Linked DNA regions of Homo sapiens. The protein of the gene in region 1 purifies or fractionates together with the protein of each later gene. This does not show direct contact. Each region holds a gene or a part of one and is shown on either strand. Other genes may lie near its edges.

Evidence for each region.
Region 2: the proteins of SLCO2B1 (region 1) and SLC28A2 purify together in Homo sapiens (affinity purification with mass spectrometry; one large-scale study listed by BioGRID and IntAct). This does not show direct contact.

What each region holds. Positions count from the first base shown.
Region 1 is NC_000011.10:75,202,964-75,207,225, reverse strand, and holds the end of SLCO2B1 (solute carrier organic anion transporter family member 2B1), read right to left. Parts: coding exon 4,261-4,262; intron 3,920-4,260; coding exon 3,799-3,919; intron 2,827-3,798; coding exon 2,646-2,826; 3' UTR 677-2,645; downstream 1-676. UniProt on the Homo sapiens protein: Mediates the Na(+)-independent transport of steroid sulfate conjugates and other specific organic anions.
Region 2 is NC_000015.10:45,255,055-45,258,873, reverse strand, and holds part of SLC28A2 (sodium/nucleoside cotransporter 2), read right to left. Parts: intron 3,545-3,819; exon of another isoform or gene 3,507-3,544; intron 2,923-3,506; exon of another isoform or gene 2,876-2,922; intron 1-2,875.

The DNA.
Region 1 (4,262 bases):
ACTTCCCTTGTGTTTCAATTTTCCTTTATGTGGGATAATTGGAGTGGCCATGGGCACTTCTGGGATCTGACCAAGGGGAAGCTGAGTGGGGGACTGATTTGAGTTGGGTTCACTGGGATATGTTTATGTGGTTTTCTGAAACAGAGGATATATTAATATTTATGTGGTTCTCTGTGTATAGATAAATCATTGCTAGTAATCTCTGTGTAGAGAATAGCTTCTAGGAATTCTACCCACTGCCCAGCTCACTTGGCATGGTGATATTAAGTTGCCATATGCAGAGGTCATATCGTGATATGAATGTGTGTCATGGCACCCAGCCCAGGAAGTATATGGGCAGTAGACAAGAAACAGGAGAAACCAGGTTTGAAATGTACAGAGCCAGAAGCTAGTCTGTGGAAAATTCTTCTAATCATCAGGGGGAGAAAATGTGTCTCAGAGGTTAAGCAGGGCAGTTAATAAAAGTATTACGCATTTTGGGGGGATTGTGTGATGTATCTGTTTTGATTTCTTTTCTCATTATAGGTAAATATAGGTACCTTGTACCTAATTTTATATTCATAATTTTGTATATTTTTCTTAAAGAGGGCTCCTCAAATTATAAAACCTTCAGTTCCCACAAGGTCTACACATCCAACCTTGGCTCCATCATTTATTTTCTGTGTGATCTTGGGGAAGTCACTTGTGCTTTCTGAGCCAGTTTCCTCTTCTATAAAATGTGAATGACAATTTGGACAGGTGAGGATTCAGAAATCCTCATGACCTTATTCCATTTTTGAAACCATTAGTAGACGAAGACACTCAAACAAAAATTAGACCAGAATATAAAGATTGGAAAAGATGTAATATACAAGCAATAATGGTGAGCAATGAATCCAGTAAAACCTAAATCTAAGTTAATGGAAATGATGTGGTTGTTGCAAACCTCTAATGCAGTTTATGAAGAAAGAATTTTTGTAATAGAAGAGACATTATGCAAGAACAAATTTAATAATAAGCTGTATCTATAATTCCAGACTTTTTTTCCCTGCAAAACCTGGGAAACAAGAGGGATGAAGGAATATAAACATCCTAAAAGCCTCATATTGTTGAAGGAGACTTTGAAATTCTTGGCGTTGATAGATACATGCTCAGATATTTATTAAACATTTACAGATACCAACCAGCAAAATAAAAAGGGAATTGGAACTTCTGTACCTCCCTTTTCTTTTATCATGTGGGAAAGTCTCAAAGCCCTGGCACTGGGAGCTGCTCAGAAGGCAAGGGCCACATGTGCCCCCAGCTTCCCCCCACCCCCAGCACAGGGCCAGGAAGCCACTGCTGGTGGCTCCCTGTCTGCTGCCTCCCGAGCAGTAGGTCCCAGCGAGGTGGGGTGGTAATAGGTTGGGCTGGGAGCAGATTAGCAAACCCTCTCCTCCCCGCAAGGAAATAACCAGGCCAGATAAGACTAGCCATAAAACAAAACAAGGGCTGATGTAGAAAAGGATTGGATCATAAGACACGAGCAAGCCATAGCATCACTCATTACACAGAGCTGAGCTTTACTGCTCCCAGCACTACAGTCCTGGGCCTGACACCAGCCCAGGCATCGGAGAACCAGGTGCCACCCCCAAAAAACAGTGTCACAGAACTAAACATTATCCACACTGCCCCAGGTGACACAGACCCAGGCACCCAGGAGAAAATAGAGAAATTAGGATCCTAGTCACAAAGGTCACAGGGACTTTGGTGGCCCCTGGTCACATGTGTGAAATCTTGGCAATGTGTAGGAATCAGTGAGTGCGCGCTGAGTGTGTGTTTGTCTGAAATTAGAAAATACCCAAGTGTGGGCCTGAGTCTCCCTCCCTACCCCAGGGCCCAGACTTGCCCACCCAGGGCCCTAAGGCAGGTGTTGGGCCTCACCCTCAACCGTGGCTCCCTGAGGGCAAGGGCTAGAATTTCCTGAGATGGAGAGTGAGTCTCCCCGCTTCAGCTAAGGATTCCTGGGGCCCCCACACAGGCCTCTTGAAGGCCCTGCCAAGTCTGGGTGTCCCACTCCTGAGGCCAGCTCCGTCCTCCCTGTGGGAGTCTACCCAGGGTCCAGCTCAGTGCTCTGCCTCCAGGGGGCGCCAAAGGGACACTTCTTAAAGGCTGCTGGAGTTGGGGAGGAGAGCTGAGTGTACCCTGACCGCACAGATGGTCATAGCTGAACGAGCCTGAAGGCTGGCAAGTTCATTCCTACCTGACAGGAGATGGCTAAGGCTCAAAGAAGGTGATCCAGGCGAGTGCAGACCTGGGCTGGGGCCCAGCATGGAGGGCAGCCTGGCCCACTATGGCTCACTTTGCTATCCTAGGGCCCCAGGGAAAGGTATACTTCTTTCCACCCAGGAAAGCCTGGCCCCAGGACAGCTGGCTGGCTGGGGGAAGGAGGAAGAAGACCCTCTTGCTCCAGAAATGGCCAACACAGCAAATGCCCAAACAACTCTTTGGTTCAGACTAGCAAGCAAAGGCTGAGAGAGGATCAATGTCTTGCCTGAAGTCACACAGCAATTTAGTGGAGGAGCCAGAATGGAACACAGGGCTCTTGACACCCAATCTTGGGCAAAGGACTCAGAGGAGGTACTGCTGTGGCTGCTACTCTTGGCCAGGTGGGGCCCCAAGACAGCTCACACTCGGGAATCCTCTGGCTTCTTCCCTGGCCCCGACACTAGCAATTGCTGCTCTACGGCAGGGCTGGATCTGCTCTCTTTGGTCCTTGCCTCTTTGTCCTGCTGCCTCAGGACAGCCAAAACTAAGGCGAAGCAGATCACAGAACCTGTTTTGAAGAAGAACTGGAGGCCGATGAACCTGGGGAAAGAATGGGGACCCTTGAACTCAAGAGCTGCCAGGCCAGGGCATGGACGTCAGCAGTCATCACTCATTGTGAAATCAGAGATACTGAGGCCTCAGGGAGACATTGACCTCTGCTGTGGCTCTTCCCTGGAGGAGGGGGAGAGGCTCTGCAGAGGAGCCCTGGGTGGGAGCAGAGGCCTGGCCATCTTCATCGCCCTGTCCTGGACTCTGCTCTGTGGCCTGGCCTGGCCCTGCCTCTCTCCGAGCCCAAGGGCTCAGGGGGCCTGACAAGTGCAATTTTATATTGCGCCACCTGCCACAAGAACAAACGGATTCCCTCTCCCCTGTTTAACTATCAAAGCCCTTGTTTGACTTTTCCTTTTCTAGGAAGCCCCCTGTGGACAGTCCCAGCCCACAGAAACTGTGCCCTCCTCACCTCCTCAGAGCTGAAAGTGACCAGCTCCCTGTCCCCAGCCCTGCTAGCAAGTCCTCTCCACATCCATCCCAGGCCAGCCGCCTCTGTGCCTTCAGGTTCCTTTGAGTTCCCCTTTGTACAGATGGGAAGACTGAGCCCCAGACAAGATAAGTCCCATGATGAGGGAGACAGAGCTGGGCCTGAAACCCAGGCCTCCTGTGTCCTAGACAGGGCTTTCTCCCCAGCCCTTCACCCCAAGTCCCTCTCGCAGCATGGCTGCTCCTCTGTTTCTCCCCAAGTTCCTGCATAGACTCTGTGGTCAAGGCCCAGCTCTGCAAGTTATTAGCTGTGTGACCTTGGGCTACTTGCTTTAACTGTCACTTTCCTCATCTATAAAAGGAGGGGGGCAGTGTTTAGCTTGAAGGACTGGTGAGCTCAGCACTGAATATATAATGACACCTGTCACCTAGCAGGTAGACTTAAATGAAACCTCCCCTCCCTGCTGGTATCCTGCCTGGGACTCTGAGAGTATTTCCAGCACCCTTCCCACAAGCCATCAAACCAGGTCTCACCGGTTTCGGAGCAGGTCATTATTGTAGTAGCGACAGACAGCTCGACGCCCACAGCTCAGGGCCCAGTGCACACAGGTGGTGTCGATGGCGCTGCCGTGGATCACGGGGCTGGGCATCCAGGCTGAGGGAGGTGGTGCTCAGGGGACAATGAAGGCCCACCGTCCTACCCTGCCCCCTCCCTGGCATGTACAACCCCTCAGGGGCTCTGGGTTACTGGGGCCTCTTGGCTGTCTGGCCCTCAAGCCCGCCCCACCCCTGCATCCGAGGTGGCTTCCTGACGGGCTGTCTAGACTCTGCCTCTATACCCCGCTCTAGGAGAGCTGGGCCAGGTCTGTCACCCCATGAGCTTGTGAGCCCTAAGATCAGGGATTGAATTCCGCTCATGCCTGTGCCCCAGGCCTGGCACACAGTGGGCATCTGGACCCCATCACCACCACCAATGGTCCCAAGCAAGATCTTTACCC
Region 2 (3,819 bases), on another chromosome or scaffold:
CAATTCCACTCCAAAGTATATACCCAGTAGAAAGGTGTATTTATCTTTACTAAAAGACATGCACAAAAATGTTCATAGCTGCACTATGATAGCAAAAGCATAGAAACTACTAAAATTCAGACCCACAGTAAAATGAGCAGATAAACTGTGGTAGATTCTTACAATGAAATACTATACAGCAATTAAAAATGTACAAAGTACAATATATGCAATAATATGGAAGAATCTCCAAAGCACAATGTAAAGCAAAAGAAGCAAAAGTATATATATGGTATATTTTCATTTAAAGTATAAATTAGACTTCCCATATAAAGTCCAAACACAGGCAAAATTAATCTATGATGCTAAAAGTCAGGATAATGATTACCCTTAGGGAGGCTGACTGAAAGGAAACATAAAATGGTTCTTGGGTACAGATAATGTTTTGGTTCTTCATCTGGTCGATGGTCATATGGTTGTATTCACTTTGTGAAAATTCATTAAGGCTTATGTTTATTTTTCTGTATGCATGCTATGCTTTATTAAACATTACACTAAAAAGGCAAAAAAAACTGTACCAGTTAAACTATGGCATGCAGTCCCAAAAACATAAATTAAGAATAATAATAATAAAATAAAATTTGACAAAAAAAATATATAGTATATATATTTTTGAGACGGAGTCTCACTGTTGCCCAGGCTGGAGTGCAATGACATGATCTTGGCTCATTGCAACCTCCGCCTCCCAGGTTCAAGAAATTCTCCTGCCTCAGCCTCCCGAGTAGCTAGGAGAACAGGTGCCCACCACCATGCCCACATATTTTTGTATTTTTAGTAGAGACTAGGTTTCACCATGTTGGCCAGGCTGGTCTCAAACTTCTGACCTCAAGTGATCTGCCTGCCTTGGCCTCCCAAAATGCTGGGATTACAGGCATGAGCCACCATGCCCAGCCCCAAGGAATATTTTTTAAAGGAAAAACTAATGCAAATACATGAGCCATCAAGTTTTAATGTACATTGTAAACAATGATATCGTGTTAAGTACTCAGAACTGTGTCAGTGAAACAAAAGATTTAAAAATAAATCCAAATCATCACATTAACTTAATAAAGTCGAAGCAACATCAGAATAGAGAAAGAACTCACAATTTAATAACTTGCTAGAAAAGTGGGTATCAGTATGGAAAAGCATCAGCTTAAAGCTACATGTCAGATTACTCCCTACAAAGCACCCCAGATCATCAGAGTTAATCAAACAAAAGAACAAGAAGAAAAAGAAATAAATACTTAAAAATCAATACAGAAACAAAACAGAATTGAAAAATGTACACATGAAGAAATTACAAAGTCTGTTATCTAGATTATATACATAACTTATTAACATGTATTTATTGAATTTTGAATGTTATGGCATTTTAAGTATAAACTATGGGTAAAGCATTGTTTCCAGTGTTATAGGAGACAAAAGGATGAAATAGACATTGATCTTGCCCTCAATGTATTTACAGTCCAGTATAGGGGATATAATATACATGTAAGTCTATAACAAAATGTCAAAAGCTTAAAGTGTTATAAGAGAGGGTCAGATAGAATGTTATGGAAGTTTGGAGAAAGAAGGGACCTTTTAGTACTGGGGCCAGTGAGGTTGAGGGGAGGAGAGGCAGCATCAGGGAAAGTTTCATGGACATGATTGCTCTTGAGTTGAGCCTTAAAATATGTGTTGTATTTGGGCACAAAGACAAAAAATGAAGACAGTACACTCATAAGCAATGATGTAATGACATGCATGACATGGAGGCAGGAAACTGGGGATTACATATAAGGAACAGTTGATAGTTGACTTTCACTAGAGCATAGGGTGGCATTAGAAAGGGAATTGCAAGAGTTAATGTTGGAAAGTCAAGTTGGATACAGATCCTGGTTGTGGGGAAGAGGTTTTGGGGAGAATTGAATACCAGGCTGTGGAGTTTGGCTTTGTTCAGGAGCAACTGGAGAGCTACAGAGGTTTGTGATATAAGGGAGTTCAGACATACTTTAGGTAGTTTTGGTAGAAGCTATATAGGATAGATTGGCAGGAGGTGGGGAGAACTGGAAACAAGAAATCTATGTGGGTTCTATTAGAGTTGGTCAGGAGAAAGGAAATGAGGTTCAAAATCCAGAACTTACTTTAGTTGATAAAGAAAAGTAGGCCGGCCACAGTGGTTCACGCCTATAATCCCAGCACTTTGGGAGGCTGAGGTGGGCAGATCACCTGAGGTCAGGAGTTCAAGACCAGCCTGGCCAAGATGGTGAAACACCATCTCTACTAAAAATACAAAAAAAAAATTAGCTGGGTGTGGTAGCACGTGTAATCCCAGCTACTCGGGAGGCTGAGACAGGAGAATCGCTTGAACCCGGGAGGTGGAGGTTGCAGTGATCACACCACTGCACTCCAGCCTGGATGACAGAGTGAGACTCCGTTTCCAAAAAAAAAGAAAAGAAAATCACACGTAGAAATATGGAAAGTAAGGCAAATGGAGGAAAATGTGTAGCTTTACAAAAATTTAAAGAAATGCAAGTTAAGGTCAGGCACATGGCTCACACCTGTAATCTCAGCACTTTGGGAGGCTGAGACATGAGGATTGTTTGGGCCCAGCAATTCAAGACCAGCCTGGGTAATGAAGTAAGACCTCATTTCTCAAAAAATAAAAATAAATGCAAGTTAGAACTTTAAGGCATGATTTTATATCTATGTAACTAGTTAACATGGTTTATATGAGAAAATATAAGGTCGATAAGACTTGAAGGGAACTGGACATGTTATATATCAGAGCAGTTTAAGGTGCCAACAACAGTCTGGCAAAAAAAAATTACCAAGATCCTTTCAGCTAAGTACTAATATTATTCTTGTTTTACAGGGTGAAAACTGAGGTTTAGAGAGGGTAAATAACTTGCCCAAAATCTGGTAAGTGCTAGAGTCAGTGGTGCAGGGGAAGCTGGCCTGCGCTGGCTTGAGAGAAGTGATTGTTACATTTTCAGGAATTGTGCAAGCCATTACTAAAAATTAAAACTATATAAACGTATAATTAAATTACATTAAAGACAAAGGTAATAAATACTAAAAACTCATCATTTTCTAATTATTTTGCTACATTTTTCTGTCATGTGAGCTCATGAAGTTATTCATGTCTGCTGTATGTGTATGGTGGAAATTTTATATAATGATACATCTCTTCCCAACTCCTTGTTCAAGTAACCCTTTGGTTACTTGAAATCAGCCATGTTGAGAGTTTTTACGTTACAGGCGAATACTGTAAATAAGGTCTTAATTTATTATTTCATCTAGACTAAAGATTAGCAAGCTGTGGTCTGTGGGCCAAGTTCATCTCACCTTCTTTTTAAAAATTAAGTTTTATCAAAACACAGCCATGCTCATTTGTTTAGTATCACCTGTGGCTGCTTTCCTACGAAAATGGTAGAGTTTAATAATTGCAACAGAGACCACATCAACCACAAAACCAATAATATTTACTACCTTATCTTTTACAGGAAAAGTTTGCCAACCCCTGGTCTTACTCCTCATTAAGGTGAGCAAAAATATTAACCAACATTCATTGCAAAACTACATGTGGACAGCCGGTTCTTTCTTCTTTTTTTTTTTTCAAGACGGTCTCACTCTGTCCCCTAGGCTGGAGTACAGTGGCACGATCATGGCTCACTGCAGCCTTAACCTCCTGGGCTCAAGTGATCCTCCCACCTCGGCCTCCTGGAATAGCTGGGACTACAGGCACGCACCACCATGCCCTGCTAATTTTTAAAAATTTTTGTAGAGGCAGGTCTCACTATGTTGCTCAGGCTGGTC